2 separate regions of the Homo sapiens genome follow, and region 1 is linked to region 2. Evidence: fine-mapped expression QTL. Tissue or cell type: whole blood. Region 2 holds a variant in brackets; the other region holds the start of a gene. All regions are shown on one strand. Distances are from middle to middle.

What was found. PIP is the estimated chance that this variant, and not a neighbour inherited with it, causes the effect.
Region 1: it holds the start of HISLA, and the variant in region 2 is the best candidate, but not a certain one, in a credible set for the expression of HISLA in whole blood (TOPMed, PIP 0.86).

Annotation. Positions count from the first base shown.
Region 1 is chr14:88,020,618-88,028,804 of GRCh38, reverse strand. HISLA (HIF1A stabilizing long noncoding RNA) reads right to left here and starts at 4,255. Exons shown (of 4, transcript NR_046094.1): 1 at 4,136-4,255; 2 at 3,324-3,398. LINC01147 (long intergenic non-protein coding RNA 1147) reads left to right here and starts at 2,493. Exons shown (of 3, transcript NR_110121.1): 1 at 2,493-2,717; 2 at 5,029-5,130.
Region 2 is chr14:88,093,460-88,101,646 of GRCh38, reverse strand. No RefSeq gene overlaps it. Among named protein-coding and RNA genes, the nearest start is that of KCNK10-AS1, 63 kb to the left of the region's middle. The variant G/A (reference allele first, on the strand shown) is at 5,009.

The DNA of each region.
Region 1 (8,187 bases), 73 kb after region 2:
GCCTCTATTGGATTAGAAATCTTAATTGTGACTGTGGATGGGAAAGAGAATAATTCTGCCAGATAAAATGTAAGGGTCCCCTGAATTTGAAGCTGAAAATATCAGTTGAACTCCTCATGCTTATGGGCCAGCAGGGAATAAATAGTTAGCACATCATTAAAAGTAATAGCCCCTGACTCTGCTGAATAGCTAGAGTTGCTGTTACCAGTGAGGACAAGAAGAAACACATCTGGAACCCAAGGGTTTCACAAGGGTATCTCTTGGTGCTCCTGTGTCCAGCGATAACAGATTTGTACATAGTTTGTATTGTACTTACATAATTGTATTGTCAAAAGCTGATGCGTAATTGTATTGCAACAACTATGGCCCAAAAAGGATAAGGCAAATAAAGGTTCAAGCCTCTCAACGATGAATGTTTGTGTCATCCCACCGGGAGACCAACACAGATAGCTAATGTGCTGGCCCATAGTGAGGGAAATATAGAATTGCTGGAAGAGGTTGGAGATAAATATAACTTATGACTTCAGATCCAGGTTCAGCTATGGAACAGAAGTTTGTCTTACTTATCCTCAATCAGACTCTGGTGGACCATTCCCTTGAAGGGGACCTTGTGACAGATTGGACGAGTGCTTCCTCTCTTGTAGAATAGATAAGGACAACTTATTCTCACAAAAATGGGGGCCTATATTGTAGTATGCAATTTGGATATAATGATGGGGGAAAGTGGCCCTGAATAGTGCAGAAGGTGGACTGTATTATGCACCTTTTATGTGCTAATTTATATGCTTTGGCTCACCGATTTCATTCAAGCTGCCACTGAGATAACTTGCTCTTAGGGTATATTCTGATCACTTGCATGCAAGCGCAACCTGACATTATTGCAACTTCTCACCTCCTTCCCTGGGGCCACCCTGATGATACTTATATAAGAACCCTGTTGCACTCAAATATGTGTTATATGGAGGTGCAGGGAGGTTCATGCTCTGTGAGACAAACCTTTGACCAATTGGAGGCTGCAGCCAGTGGCTAAATTCTTCACTTTTCTCTGTGATTAAATTATTACAACTTCTTAGAAGATGGTCCTATGGGATTGAGCAATCAGTCATACCTGGAAGCAGTTAGACCTATAATGCATCCTCATATTACTCCCCCTTTTTCTCTATTCTACTCCCTTTCCTTCCTCATTCCTGCTCCCTGGGATTGTACAATCTAATTCAGGCTGGAATATTATCCCACTTCCCAATCTGATCCACTTGTGGCCCTCTGGTGATTCCACTGCCACAGTGAATGTTCCCTCCCATTGTACCATAACTGAAATGTGGCATCTTCTGAGGACACAACTTTCCCTGCAGCCCACTCAAATGAAGACTCCTGGCTCACCAATACTATTCCCAGACCATTCTTCTTCCTTGTTCCTTTGAAATGTACGTCATCCAACTAAAATACCTTCTTGTCCTTCTAAATATCTTTTGTACCTGTCCATTTCTTGCAACCCAAGATGCCACCTGCCTAGTTCAGGTCTCCACTGAATCTTGCCTGTTTGTTTGAACAGCTCTCTCTTTCCACCATCAAATAACTCTCTGCTTCTCATTTTGCCTCCCTCCACCTATATTGGACACTGAGACAAAAGTAATCTTCCTAAAGCACAAATTGGATCATGTCATTCATCTACTTACAACTTTTTTGTGGCTTCTTATTGACTTGTTTCTTTCCAGCCTTTATCTTCTGCCACTTCCTCCCTCACCATCAGCTTCAATAACACTGAACTACTTTCATTTTCCTAAAATGGAGCCTGTCCTTTGCATGTGCTGACCCTGAAACAACCTCCCACTCTTGATCAATGCCCACTCAGTCGTTTAGGTCTCAGAGGCAAGTGTCCTGGACGCTTTCAAGATTGAGCTAGTAGTGGACATCTTATCCAACCTTCTTACTTAACTCTTACCATAGCACTCACTACTTTGTAATTTTTGTCTCTGGATCCTGTGTCAGACTTAAGGCTTCCCAATTCTCCTAGCATCTAGTAAAAATTAAGCATTTGGCAAAAATTCATTGCAAGAATGTCTAGATGAATTGTTTTTCTTTTCTTCCGATTAACTTGTTCACCATCTTTTATAGTATCATTAAAAAGATGAATGTACATTTTTTCTTATGTATTTTCCCAATGTACTTAAAAAGTAAAAATAAATGGCACATGAACAGCATGAAATTGACTGGGACCTTTCTCAGGCACAGTTTATATCACTGGGCTAAACCGCTTACAGTCAGCATTTAGGAAAAATAGATTAAATTCCATACATAGACTTATAATCATTTATCATATTTGTATTCCTTTTACATTTTCATATTTTTAAAATCCTGTGCCATATTTTTATCACAATAGTGTATCACAAAGCTGAACACACCTCCTCTTGAACATTTATCACTAGTGGCCTTGAATCTTATGTGATATCATAATCAGAATTTCTACTTCATAGTGACTGATAGAGAGCAGCAGTCTCAGCTGTAAAAATAGAGTCCCCAGGGAATACTGATAGCCTTTTTCCAATAAAGCGAAATCTATTTGCAATAATAGGTATATGCAAAGACCTCCTGAAATTACAGGAGCAAACTCCTTCCGCATCTCGACCTAATTAAGATCCGTTACTCAACAGTGATCAGTCAGATTTTACTGTAAGAAGGAAGAAAACAAGGATCCTGCTAGAACAACATGGAAACAGGTAGGCTATATGTATGGTGGTTACAGTCACAGGCATTTGGGTTCAAATTCTTGTTCTGCTTTTAGCCTCTCTAGCTTTCCATCTCTTATTGTACAATGGGGAAAATAACATCTACTTCATAATATTGTGGGGAAATTAAGTAAAATATCAGATGTGGAGTTCTCAGCATATAGTATCCTCTCAACATACCCATGGCAGCTATCACTGATGAATTCCCAGAAACCTGGGACAATAAGGAAGTCTATTAAAAGAGCCTTAGCGACCAGCATCTTCAGGGAGGGATGGGGGTCAAGGAGCCAGAGGGAGGTGAGAGAGGATGAAGGGAGAGTGACCATTTTCTCTAAAGTAGTTTTTATTAAATTTTAACAGCTTCCAACCCGGGGTTCAGAACTCTAGGCAATGACCTAGTAGTCAGTAAGGCAGGAATAAATTGTGATAAGCCTGGTTCTATTATGGAAAACATTCTCAGCAAACTGCAGGGGAGAGATAGCAGGAAGATCCATGGCTAATGCACTGCTTTTAAAGAACTTTCATAACTCACTGGACACATAGGGATGTTATGTGCTTTTGCCTAGTCATGAACAGAAAATAAACACAGTTACTTACTTGTCAGGCAGAAAACTTGATTAATTTTTTTAAGCAGTAAGCAGAATCATAGGAAATCATTTCCTTCATGCAAGCCTGCAATAAACGGGAGGTGCATTTGCCACGAATTCATTTTGGTGTTCACATGGTAAAAAAATACTGCCACATGTGGAATGAGCCAAGTGGGCTTTAGAACTGAAGGGGACCAGCCCCTCCACACCTGTGGGTGTTTTTCGTCAGGTGGGACAAGAGACTGAGAAAAGAAATAAGACACAGAGATAAAGTATGGAGAAAGAACAGTGGGCCCAGGGGACCGGCACTCAGCATACGGAGGACGGGCGCCAGCCCTGGTCTCTTGAGTTTCCTCAGTATTAATTGATCACTATCTCTACCATCTCGGAGAGGGGGATGTGGCAGGACAATAGGGTAACAGTGGGGAGAGGGTCAGCAGGAAAACATGTGAGCAAAGGTCTCTGTGTCATAAATAAGTTTAAGGAAAGGTGCTGTGCCTTGATGTGCATGTACACAAACATCTCGGTGCATTAAAGAGCAGTATTGCCGCCAGCATATCTCACCTCCAGCCATAAGGCGGTTTCCTCCTATCTCAGTAAATAGAACGTATAATCGGGTTTGACATTGAGACATTTCATTCCCAGGGATAAGCAGGAGACAGATGCCTTCCTCTTATCTCAACTGCAAAGAGGCCTTCCTCTTTCACTAATCCTCCTCAGCACAGACCCTTTACGGGTGTCTGGCTGGGGGACGGTCAGGTCTTTCCCTTCCCACAAGGCCATATCTCAGGCTATCACATGGGGAGAAACCTTGGACAATACCTGGCTTTCCTGGGCAGAGGTCCCTGCAGCCTTCCGCAGTGTATCGTGTCCCTGGGTACTCAAGATTAGAGAATGGCGATGACTTTTACCAAGCATACTGCCTTCAAGCACTTGTTTAACAAAGCACATTCTGCACAGCCCTAAATCCATTAAACCTTGAGTCAACACAGCACATGTCTCTGCAAACACAGGGTTGGGGCTAGGGTTACAGATTAACAGCATCTCAAGGCAGAAGAATTTCTCTTAGTACAGAACAAAATGGAGTCTCTTATGTCTACTTCTTTCTACATAGACACAGTAACAGTCTGATCTCTCTTTCTTTTCCCCACGTAGAACTCTGAAATAAACATTGCAAAAAATCATACCCATAAAAATATTAATCTGTATTTCTTATGCTCATATTTTAAGGTTGAAAAGATCAATATAACATTAGTACTTTATCACTCTCAAATACTTTTATATCCAATATTTCATTTGCACTGAATAACAGATACCATTAGGTGGGCAGGGGAAATATCCTCCTATTAAAGACAAGGACACAGTCTCTGAGAGGTTATCTCATTTGTTAAAGGTCACGTAGCCTGTAAATGAAAGAACAAAAGTTCAAACAAACCTCATGCCTCCAAATCAAGAGGAAGCCTCAAGGGACCACACTGATACTGCTGTTAGATATGTTCACCGTCTCATGTATTTTGATGTTTACACAGGCCATTTTTAACATACATGTTTAGCAGTCAATGCCACTGGAAATCAGACCAGGGCATGTGTTTAGACATCTTATGGGTATTTCCCTGAATGAGCCCATGAATAGAGTGTAAAAATAGATAAGAAACTGACTTCCTGTTTGTTTCTCTGCTCCCACTTTTTGTCCTTCTTCCGTTGTGCCCTGGGAGGCTGATCTTAGGACCTACAACAAAGAGATTTCTCACTGGCTTCCTGGTGGTTCATTCAATAGGGAATTCCTGCAGCAAGTTGGAGGGAGGGAGGAGAAGCAGGTATGGATTTTTGTTTCTTTCCCTAGTTCTCATTTTAATGCCTGGCCATAGGCTGGCTATGCCTGGGGGTCTGCAGACAGACTTCTGTGCCTCCAGCTTTGGTAACCACCCCCTCTGCTTGCCCTCTCAGAGCCAGGGGCCTCAGGGTGCCCAGATGTTCTTATCCCCAGTTCACGCATCATCCTTGTGGCTTCCTTGTACCCTGCCCATCCTTTGTAAATATCTCTTTACTAAACTTTCCTCAGAATACCTGAATTTGAGTGATCTCTCCATTGCCTGCCAGGATCCTTCCTGACATTACCTTCCAGAATGAATATTTCTGAAGGAGTCTATTCTCTATGCAAAGAAACTCAATTTCTCACCATGTATAAAAGGAAATAAACATCGTTTTCAATGGAAAATAATGTAGGGGACATGTCTGGTGTCACAGGTGTGTTTGGACCACACAGCCCAGAAAGATGTAGTCATAGAAACAGACTCTTTTCTCTCCTTTGTTTGGTAACAGCATCCTGATTTTCCCTTGAGAAACGATCCTCTCTTCTCCTTACAGTCTCTGTTATTATGGTGGGACCGACCCTACTCTCCAGGGCAGGCATGGGGCCCTGCCCTGGCTTATGAGAAAACTATACACCCCTAACCACAGTGATCAGTTTAAAGATGGGAAGGAACAAGGGCAGGGGAACCTTTACATTTTCCAGAGATACCAAGAAAGAGGCTCTCTTCCCGCTGGATTTTCTAATCTGTGGAACCTGGGCCTGGAGATGCTGTTAACCATCTTTGACATCATATAAAAGCCAAAATAAAATAGCAAAAGGTGGAACTGAGAGATGGTGAAAATGTCCTCCTGGCCACAGAGGTTGAGCATTTGAATTCAGCCATACCTGAAAGTGTCCCTGCACTTTTCTCCCCTGGACCAATAATCTTTGTGTGTGTGTGTGTGTGTGTGTGTGTGTGTGATCTGTTGTCACCTTTATCCAGAAAAATCTACAGTAAAGAAAAAATTTATGAACTGGGAGACTTGGAATTGGGCTTAGATCCCTCACCTATAAAATGAGGGTTTTGTACTGGATGTTCTTCAAATGCCTTTCTAGAGCTAAACATGGACAAGGATCAACAGTAGCCAATCTTCCAGGTCAGCTAGAACTGAAAGAACAGTTATGCCTCAAAGTGAGCTCATTCTCTGTTCCTAGCACGTTCACTGCAGCACTGCTGTCCACCCAATAAAGGACAGACATCATTACAAATAAGGGCCCTACCCAGCCCTGGTCAGCCCTATTGATAACTCCCAGGAGAGCTCATACCATCTTCCCACTTCAGTCCAATTAACCCAATACACTATATAATTTTCATAATACCTCTCTTAAAATCTAATCAGCACACCAAATGTCCAAAGAAATATTCAATGTTTACCAGAAGTGAAATGTGGTGATAGTTATTGCGATTGTTAGCATTGCATCTTTATGTCTATCCTCCTTGAAAGGGACTCAAAAAACCCTTCCAAGCCCTCCAAGTTTCCACCAAGTAATATCTTCCTTCATGCACTGTGGCTTTTTGATACTTTCCTCTGGCATCCATTTGATGAAAATTATTTTCATCAAAGGATGCCAGAAAAACAAATGAGTTTTAAAGTAAAGATGAAGGAAAATTTTGAAAAGTACTTAATTTCCTCATTATTCATCCATTCATTGTTCCACTATCCAATGACCAAGGCACTGTTTCTGGGCTGTTCACAGTAGCTCTATTTTCTGCTATTGTTTTTTATTTGATGAAAATTTAGCTTAAACAAACTAGGCTTATGTAAAATCAATGTAATAGCACAATCCTGCATAATTTGCCAAGCATTTGATGAGTTGAAAGGTGACATATTTGCACACTACATTTAGATGTGGGAAAGAAACTATCATCATTGCGCCCTGAAAACCTCATTCCCACCATTGGTGGGGAAATAAAAACCCTAAATTTGTGCATAGAAGATATTTCCATGTCTGCTGGCTTAAATAGTCTTTTAAAGACTTGTTTATGTCTTCTGGATAAAGACTCAATCAAGTTTAAGTTCCATGCCCCTCTTAGTACTGTTTCTCGTCTTGGAGAGCCACTCACTAGAAGGCACTTTCCACAAGAGGTGCCTCTCACAAGATGTAGTCTTCCATAAGATGGCAACTGGATGGAGAGGAAAGCTTACCTGTCCTCTTTGCTGTGAGGATGTCAACCTGCTGCTCCTCATACTGTCTTCTGGTCCCCTCTGGCCTTTGAGATGATGTCCTGTCTGTCCATTAGGCATCCCCCTGGCAGAAGCTTCTGAGACCACAGTCAGTATAATTGGTGATCTGGTGGTCTGCTGGGGGTCTACTGTGTCCCCTCCAGTTATACTCCCTTGTCTTGGTTCTTGCTAGAGCAGCAGCTCCCCATGGTCTCAGCTGCCTCCTCCATCCACCCTGGGCCTTGGTTCTCCACCCAGCAGCCTCTGCCATGGGGTCAAGTTTCCCTCCCACTGGGATCCATGGGAGGCCCACTGGCCCTCATCTCTCTTCCATACTCTTCTTCCTCTGGGAGCAAGTGACAATGTTTGGATTCCTTCCCTATCCCACAGCAGAGGACCTATTCCCAGTTATCTTTTCTTCTTAAGTATCACCACCATGGTATACCACCATGTCGATTTTTCTGTTCTGTTGCAATTTTACTAATGCAGGGGTGCCCTAAAAGGTGATCTCCTCCCTGAACCCCAAACAAGGCATGAGTCCCCTCTGCCGCTCTGCTTCTGGGTTTCCTTGCTGATCTCTCTTAATATGAATCCGGAAATATGTCCTATCTCTTGCTCTCGCTTTCTGTACCTCATGGATTCTTCGTAGAATCAGAAGGTATATCTACTTCATCTTTTTGTTGTTAAAAGAAAAACTTTAGCCAAATTAAATTTAACAGAGTTTAATTGAGCAAAGAACAATTTGCAAATTGAGCAGCCTCCTGAGCCACAGTAGGCTCAGGGACTCCAGTGCAGACACATGGTGGAAGATTTATAGATAGAAGAAAGAAAGTGACATACAGAAACTAGTGTGAGGT
Region 2 (8,187 bases):
AAAAAGAAGCATAATGAGAAAAAAATACTTAAAACAGAATAAACAGAGCATCGTTTTTCTGTATAAAAGCACTAAATGGTCTAAAATATATGTCATTGGAGTCCCAGGGTGGAAAAAACAAAACAAAAAAAGAGATGAAATAGTAAATGAACATTTTCCGTAAGAGATGAAATTTATAAAGCAATCCAAAAAGATAAATGAATCCCAAACAGAATAAGTATAAAAGAACCACCATGTTGTAATCAAATTGATGAAAATCAGTGATAAAGGGAATTTTATAAGCCGCCAGAGAAAAATAAACATTACAAACCAGATAAGACTGATGCCAGACTTTAAATCAGAAACTATGTAAATCAAAAGAAAATTGAGAAACATTTTTACTTCATGAGAAAGGGGTGGAGGGAACAAAACAAAAACAAACAAAATACTGTTAAATGATAATTCAATAACATGTAATAATATAAAAATGATTTTAAAAAGGAATTTTTTAATATAAAAGTGGAGCTTGAAGAATTCATTACCAGCAGGCTTCCAATGTAAGAAGGCTATGAAAAGGTCTTTGGCAGGAGGAAAATAATGGAAGAAATTTGGCTCTATGCAAAGAATTGAAGAATGTTGGAACAGGTAAATATACTGGTTAAATATAACAGACTTTTGTCCTAATTTTAAATTTTTTTTAAAAAATTCACTGCTTGAAACAACAATAATAACAATGTGTTGTGGAATTTATAACACCTATAGAAGTATACATATTAGGATAAAGGACAGGAGAAAGAAAATGGAATTATACCCTTGTAAAGTTGTTACAATATACGTGAAGCGGTTAAAGTAATATTTGGAGATAGACTATGTTAAGTCAAATATATGTATTTTAAGACCTAGAACAACCACTTAAAATAATAGAAAGCATAGTCATTAATAAGCTAATATCAAATATAAAATAATCATCCAAATGAAGGCAGAAAAAGAGGCAAATGGAAGAAAAAATAGAGATTAAACAAAAACTAGGTGGAAATATGGGGGTTTAAAACACAAGAATAATAGAAAGGATAAATAACTAGATGAAAATATGTGGTTTAAAACAAAAGAATGTTAAAAATTACATTAACTATAATTTTTTTTTTTGAGAGAGAGTCTGGCTTTGTTGACCAAGCTGGAGTGCAGTGGTGCAATTTTGGCTCACTGCCACCTCCGCCTCCCAGGTTCAAGTGATTCTCCTGCCTCAGCCTCCCGCGTAGCTGCCTGCCACCACACCCAGCTAAGTTTTGTATTTTTAGTAGAGACGGGGTTTCACTGTCTTGGCCAGGCTGGTCTCGAACTCCTGACCTCGTGATCCACCCACCTCGGCCTCCCAAAGTACTGGAATTACAAGCGTGAGCCACCTCATCTGGCCTTAAGTATAAATTTTATAAAAAACTTCAATTAAACTACAGAGATTGCCAGATTGAATTAAAAAACTAGTTGTAACTATATGCTCTCTGATTCTCCTATTAGCAATGATGAGAAAGAAAGTTTTATGGCCAGTATCTAGAAATCATGTATAGTGACTCTCTGCCTCTGCCTCACATGAGTTCACATAAAACATATACAAAAAAGTTCATCAGAAAAATACAAACTCATTTTTATTTACTTGGGTTTTGTCTTAAGCCTTTATGAGGAACCATCTACCCATGTGCCTGACATAGGTCTTATTTTTCTCCTTAGTACAAAGGCAATTAAAACAATCTGAGTGACTTCTTTGTTCTTGTTCTCCTATACCAGGAGTAGAAAAAGTATAGACTGCAGGCAAATGCTTTCCATCACCTGTTTTTTTACTACTATTCTATTGAATTATAATTCATATACCACATAATACAATCATTTTAAGTATATAATTTAATGGTCTTTAGTATATTCATAACGCTGTGTAACCATAATCACCATAATTAATTTTAGAACATTTTCATCACCCCCCAAAGAAACCCTGCACCCCTGAGTTATCACCCTCCAATCCCCACTTTTTTCTGCACCCCACGCTAGGCAATCACGAATTTGCTTTCTGTCTCTATAGATTTGCCTTTTCTGAACATTTCATATAAATGGAATCACACAATATGTGGACTTTTGTGTCTGGCTTCTTTCACTTAGCATAATGTTTTTAAATTCATCCATACTGTAGCATGATTCAGTATTTTGTTTCTTTGAATGGTAGAGTGATAGTCCATCATATAGATATACCACATTTTCTTTATCCATTCGTCAGTCGAAGAATATTTAGCTTGTTTCCACTTTTTGGCTATTATAAATAATGCTGCTATTAACATTTTTATACAAGTTTCTGTGTAAACCTTTGTTTACATTTCTCTTTGGTATATACCTAGGAGTGGAATTGTTGAGTCAAACAGTAATTTTAAACATAAAATTACAGTTATGTTTTAAACATAAAATTACAGGTATATACCCATTTTGAGGAGCTGCCAAAATGTTTTCTAAAGTGGTTCCTCTAATTTACATCTTATTAGCAAATTGAAGGATTCAAATTTCTCCAAATTCTCATCAATATTTGTTATTGTCTTTTTTTTATTGTAGCCATCCTAGTAGGTGTGAAGTGGTATCTCACTGTGGCTTGAAACAACTGGATATCTACAGGCAAAAGAATAAAGCCGAACCTCTATCTCACACCATATATAAAAATTAAGTCAAAATGGATCAAAGATCTAAATGCAACATCTAAAGCTGTAAAACTTGGATGGGCGTGGTGGCTCATGCCTGTAATCCCAGCACTTTGGGAGGCTGAGGCAAGAGGATCATTTGAGCCCAGGAGTTTGAGAACAGCCTGGCCAACAGTGAGATCCTTTCTCTAGCAAAAAAGAAAAAAAAAAAAAAAAAGAAAGCTGTAAATCTCTTAGAAGAAAACAGAGGTGTAAATCTTTGTGAACTTGATTTAAGCAATGGCTTCTTAGCTATAAAACCGAAAGTACAAGCAGAAAAAGAAGAAACAATAGATCAACTGGGGTTCAAGAAAATAAAAAAACTTTTTTGCTTCAAAGAACACTATCAAGAAAGTAAAAAGACAACCTATACAGTGACAGAAAATATTTGCAAATTGTATTTCGGATAAACAACTACTCCAGAATACATGTAGAATTCTTGCAGCGCAACAATAAAAAGATAATTAGTCCAGTTAAAACTTGGGCAAAGTGTTTGAACAGAACATTTCTCTAAAGAACATAAACAAATGGCCAATAAGCACATATAAAAGATGTACAACATTAGCCATTAGGGAAATGCAAATCAAAATCACAATGCAATATTATGACATACCCACTAGGGTGCCTAAAATACAAAAGCAGACATTAACAAGTGTTGACAAGGACGTCAGGAAATTGGAACCCTCATACATTGTTGACAGAATTGTAAAATAATGCAGCCATTTCAAAAAACAGTTTGGCTGTTCCTCAAATTGTTAAACATAGAGCCACTATTTGACCCAGCAATTTCACTCTAGGTTTATATCCATGAGAAATGAAAACCTGTGCCTACAGAAAAACTTGTACACAAATATTAAAAGCCATATTATTTATAATACTTAAAAAATGGAAAAACCTAAGCATCTATTAAATGATGAATGGACAAACAAAATGTGATATATTTGTGTGGTATATTATTCAGCTATACAAGGAATGAAATACTGAGAAATGCTACAACATGGATGGATTTTGAAAACATTATGCTAAGTGCAAGCAGCCAAATACAAAAGGCCACATATTGCATGATTTGGTTTATATAAAATATCCAGAATAGGCATATCCATGGAAACAGACAGTAATTTAGTGGTTTTCACGGGCTGGGAGCAGGGAGAAGGAAGAAAGACTGCTAATTGGTTTGGATTTTCTTTATGGGATTAAAAAAAAAAGAAAAGAAAAAGAAATCCTGAAATCAGATAGTGGTGATGGTTGCATTTTGTGGATATACTGAAAACCACTGAATTGTACACTTTAAAATAATGAATTTTACAGTAAGTGAAGTATGTATCGATGAAGCTATTAAAACATCTATTTATTAGCTCAAATTTCTACAGGTCAGAATTCTGGCATGGAGTGGCTGCATTCTTTGTTTAAGCTGAAATCAAGGTGTTGTTTGGCCGTGTTCTCACCTGAAGCTCAGAGTTCACTTCCAAGCTCATTTTTGTCCTTAGCAGAATTGAGTGTCTTGCAATTGTAGAACTGAGGTCTTGGCTTGCTGTCTGTCAGCAGGGGACTGCTCCCTGCTTCTAGAGGCCACCGGTTTCCCTCGTTATGTGGCCCCTTCCATTTTCAGGCCAGCAATAATGTGTTGAATACTTCCTATGCTTCAAATCTCTGGCTTCTGCTACCAGCTGGAGAAAAACTCTCTGCTTGTAGAGGGCTCATGTGATTTACTTAGTCTTTGTCTTAAGGTCAATTTATTTGGTACTTGGGATTTTAATTGTATCTGTATGTTTCCATCAAGGCAATAACTGTATTAGTGTTTGAATAAATAACCAGGTAATCTGGTAATTTACCATACTGGTAATCTGACAGGGAGATGGGAATTCATCTTTATAATTCTGCTTACCACAAACCATGTCTGTGCTTATTTTCTTTGGGGAAGAGTTGTCTGTGACTGTCACTTAGTTTGAGGTTCCATGTTGCTGAGATTCTGTCCAGTATTTTGACCTCTCCCCGAACTGGTCTTCAGAACCATCTCTTAGGAGCAGTGCACAGGAACATCTGGTGTTTTTTGCTCCAACTTTGGCCTCAAAGGGTCATCCATCCCCTTACATCCCTTACCTGAGTTGACATGCTTCCTTAAGAAGGTCCCATGGAGGGCTACTAGTAGTAGAACTTCAGGCCAGATGGGCCTGCGGTGATTGCAGTTATCCTGGGTTTCCTACTGGTGAAGGGAGAGTTAGGGATGAGGAATGTTCAGCCCTGTTGCTGCTGCCTTGATTTCGTATCTTGCAAGAGCCATTCTAGGTGGCTCTGAACTCTCCTCTTTCTGTTTTCCT[G/A]ATTGGAATCACTGCCATTCATGCTGGTGAAAACCCTGGCTGAATTTTTGTTACTGAATGTTCACTGTGGCATGGTGATTGTTTGGAGGTCTCTCGAGGGTGGGAACATGGGGTGAGTAATAATTTATGATATGCATCATCTGAAAATAGAAAAAAGAGGTTACATTTTTCAGTACAAAACTTAATGAGAATGAACCAAATACCTATGTACTCTGTTTTTTGCCCTTAAAAAATTATTCACTAAGAGGGCACATACTGGCAATATGCAGTCATTATCAGTGTAATGAAGAACCCAAGTGAAGGCTATTTCGGATGCTCTAATGTGCCTGTTTTATGAAAGTATAAAAGGCCTGTTTACTTTTCAATTGTTTTATTGCAGTACAAAAAACCCATCTCTTCCAATTTATGACTAATCGTGGATTTTATTATTCATGGTCTAATTCTGCAGCGGAAGGTTACAGAAGCAGGTACACATTAATTCTCCTCAATTTGGAGCCTGAGAAAGATGACTGATGGCAGCTCAGCTGCCCTCTGGCTCTCACTCCTGGAGCTTAACCTTTACATATGGATACTAAACAGGCCTGGTGCAATCCTGGTGAGCCTCTCAATGAATATTTTCTTACTCAGAATAATCAAATTTTAAGAATGTGCTACAGGAAAAAGCTGTCACATTGCATTAGGTTAGCACTGTGACTTCATGGAAATGGTCAGGTAACTCAATTGCCCCAGCCCAATAATACACAGGCATAATTTAGTTCGCTTAGAGTTAAGAGGACAAATCATTTAAAAAATGTCCTATTTGAGTTTGTTGAAGGCAAGCAAGGAACTGTGGGGCAATGGACGATTCAGAGGGGTTATAGGAGCTAAGCTAAGAATAAAATGGGCATCAAAATACTCTGTAATCTTTATAGAAATACTTATAATTAAATTATATAATGCTCTATAGTTTAGAAAGCACTCTCACTTATAGTCTTTTTTGACTCTATGGGAGATTCTATAAAGAGATACTATTGTCTTAATTTATAAATGACGATACTGAGTATACTGAGTATCGGAGGCAGTGCTTCATTCAAGGTCACTTGGCTGGTTTGTGGGACTAGAAGCTGAACTTAAGTTGTTGTTATGGGTTGACTTGTGGCCCCTGCCACCATAAAGATATGTTTAAGTCCAGCCTCCCAGTACTATAGAATGTGATCTTATTTGGAAATAGGGTTATTGCAGATATAATTAGTTAAAATGAAGCCATACTGGAGTAGGGTGGACCTTTAATCCATACAAATGGTGTCCTTATAAGAAAAGGAGAGAAACAGAGGGAAGATGGCTATGTGAAGACACAGAGGCACAAGGAGAACACCATATGAAGAAGAAGACAGAAACTGGAGTGATGCTTCTACAAGCAGGGAACACCAAGAATTGCCAGCCATCACCAGAAGCTAGGAGAGGCATGGAACAGATGCTCCCTGGGAGCCCTCGGAAAGAACCAACGCTGCTGACATCTTGATTTTGCATGGCTAGCCTCCAGAACTGTGAGAAATAAATTTCTTTTAAGCCACCCAGTTTGTGGAACTTTGTTATGGCAGCCCTAGAAAACTAATAATAGCTCCTAAGAGTAATAAGATTTTCCATTTATAGTGCCCTGACTGTGGGCCAGGTACTCTACATGCATTATCATGAAATCTTTTAAGAGCGCTTCAAGGTCTATTATCATCAATGGCATTTTCATGACTTATCTTAGGTCAAATAACTACTAAGTAGCGGAGCTGGGATTCCAGCCCCAGCCCTGAGTTTAAACCTGTGCCGTGTCTACTTTGTCCATAAGCCGTGGTGGTGTTTAAAAATGTTTGTGGCAGTGTGAGCGAGGGCAACCTCCAACTCTTGTGAGTTGCTTCTTTATTTTAGGTCTCCTAGGCAACTACTAACTCAGTTTCAACTCTGCTATGCTAACTTACATGCACTAGTTACTAATAATTACAAAATAGTGCCTGAAACTCAGAAAAAAATCAGTATTTTTAAAACATGTAGTAGTTTAAGAACCTGTTACAGTGCTTCAAAATTTATAAAGTATATTCACACAAATTCTTATTAGGTCTTTTAAAAACAATCGGTGGCTACTTTAAGCAAGTCTTTTTTCTTTCCAATTTTTGTTTTTAAGATTTGTCATATCCCCAACTGGATAGTAAGCTTCTAGAGGTAATGAATACATCAATTTTCTTCTCTTTCTTCTTCCGTGATATTGGTTCTTCCCCGAGTTCTACTGGATGTACACCTACGGTCTTGCAGTGATGATCCATGTCATTCTGAAAATGGTTATCAAGAATAAACTGGATAATCTATATATAAAAAGCAAGAATAGAATTTTTTATTTTTATCTTCTAAATCACAGAAATCATTGCTAATGTTTCCCAAACCTCACTGTAAACCATTTTAAGTCTTTCCCTCCTTTAATACACTGTGAGGTGAACCCTAATAGCATCATCCTCTTTGCTCTATGAGACCCAGAGCTAGAGAGGGATCAACCTGCCTGTTCAGCCCTCCATAGTTCTTGGGGTCAAGGAGGATGAGAAAGTCCTTCCCAGAATATTCACATGAACTAGGACAGCCTTTCTAGGACCCAGGATGTGCCATAGCCTTGTTGTCACCTGTCATAGTGTTTGGCCTTCTTGGGTGATCACTAAATTCCTTGCTGGTTTTAACAAGTTATGTTTCATTTTTATTTTTTCCAATGTTAGTTTTCAAGATGTTCCTCTGTTACATAGATTTCCTAGGCAGCTTATTCAAAGTTGAGATAAGCAAACCTAAACTGACATACTTTGATTTTCAGTGATATGGGAAATGTCCATGATAAAACAACTGAGTTAAAAATGGCAGATAAAAATATGTGCAGTATGCTCCCAGTTCTCTATGTATCTTTCTGCTACTTGTAGATGTGTGATTTTGGGCAAGTTACTTATCTGATGAGCCTCAGTTTCCTTAAATGCGCATAATAATATATACCTTGCAGGGTTAATGTGAAGATCAACAGTGACGTATTTGACACTCCTTTACAAATGTTGGAGAGTTATGCCTTGTCTTAGTTTGCTAGGCTGCCATGACAAAGTAGCACAGACTGGATGGTTTAAACATTAGAAATATATTTTCTCAATGTTCTGGAAGTTAGAAGTCTGAGATCAAGGTGTCAG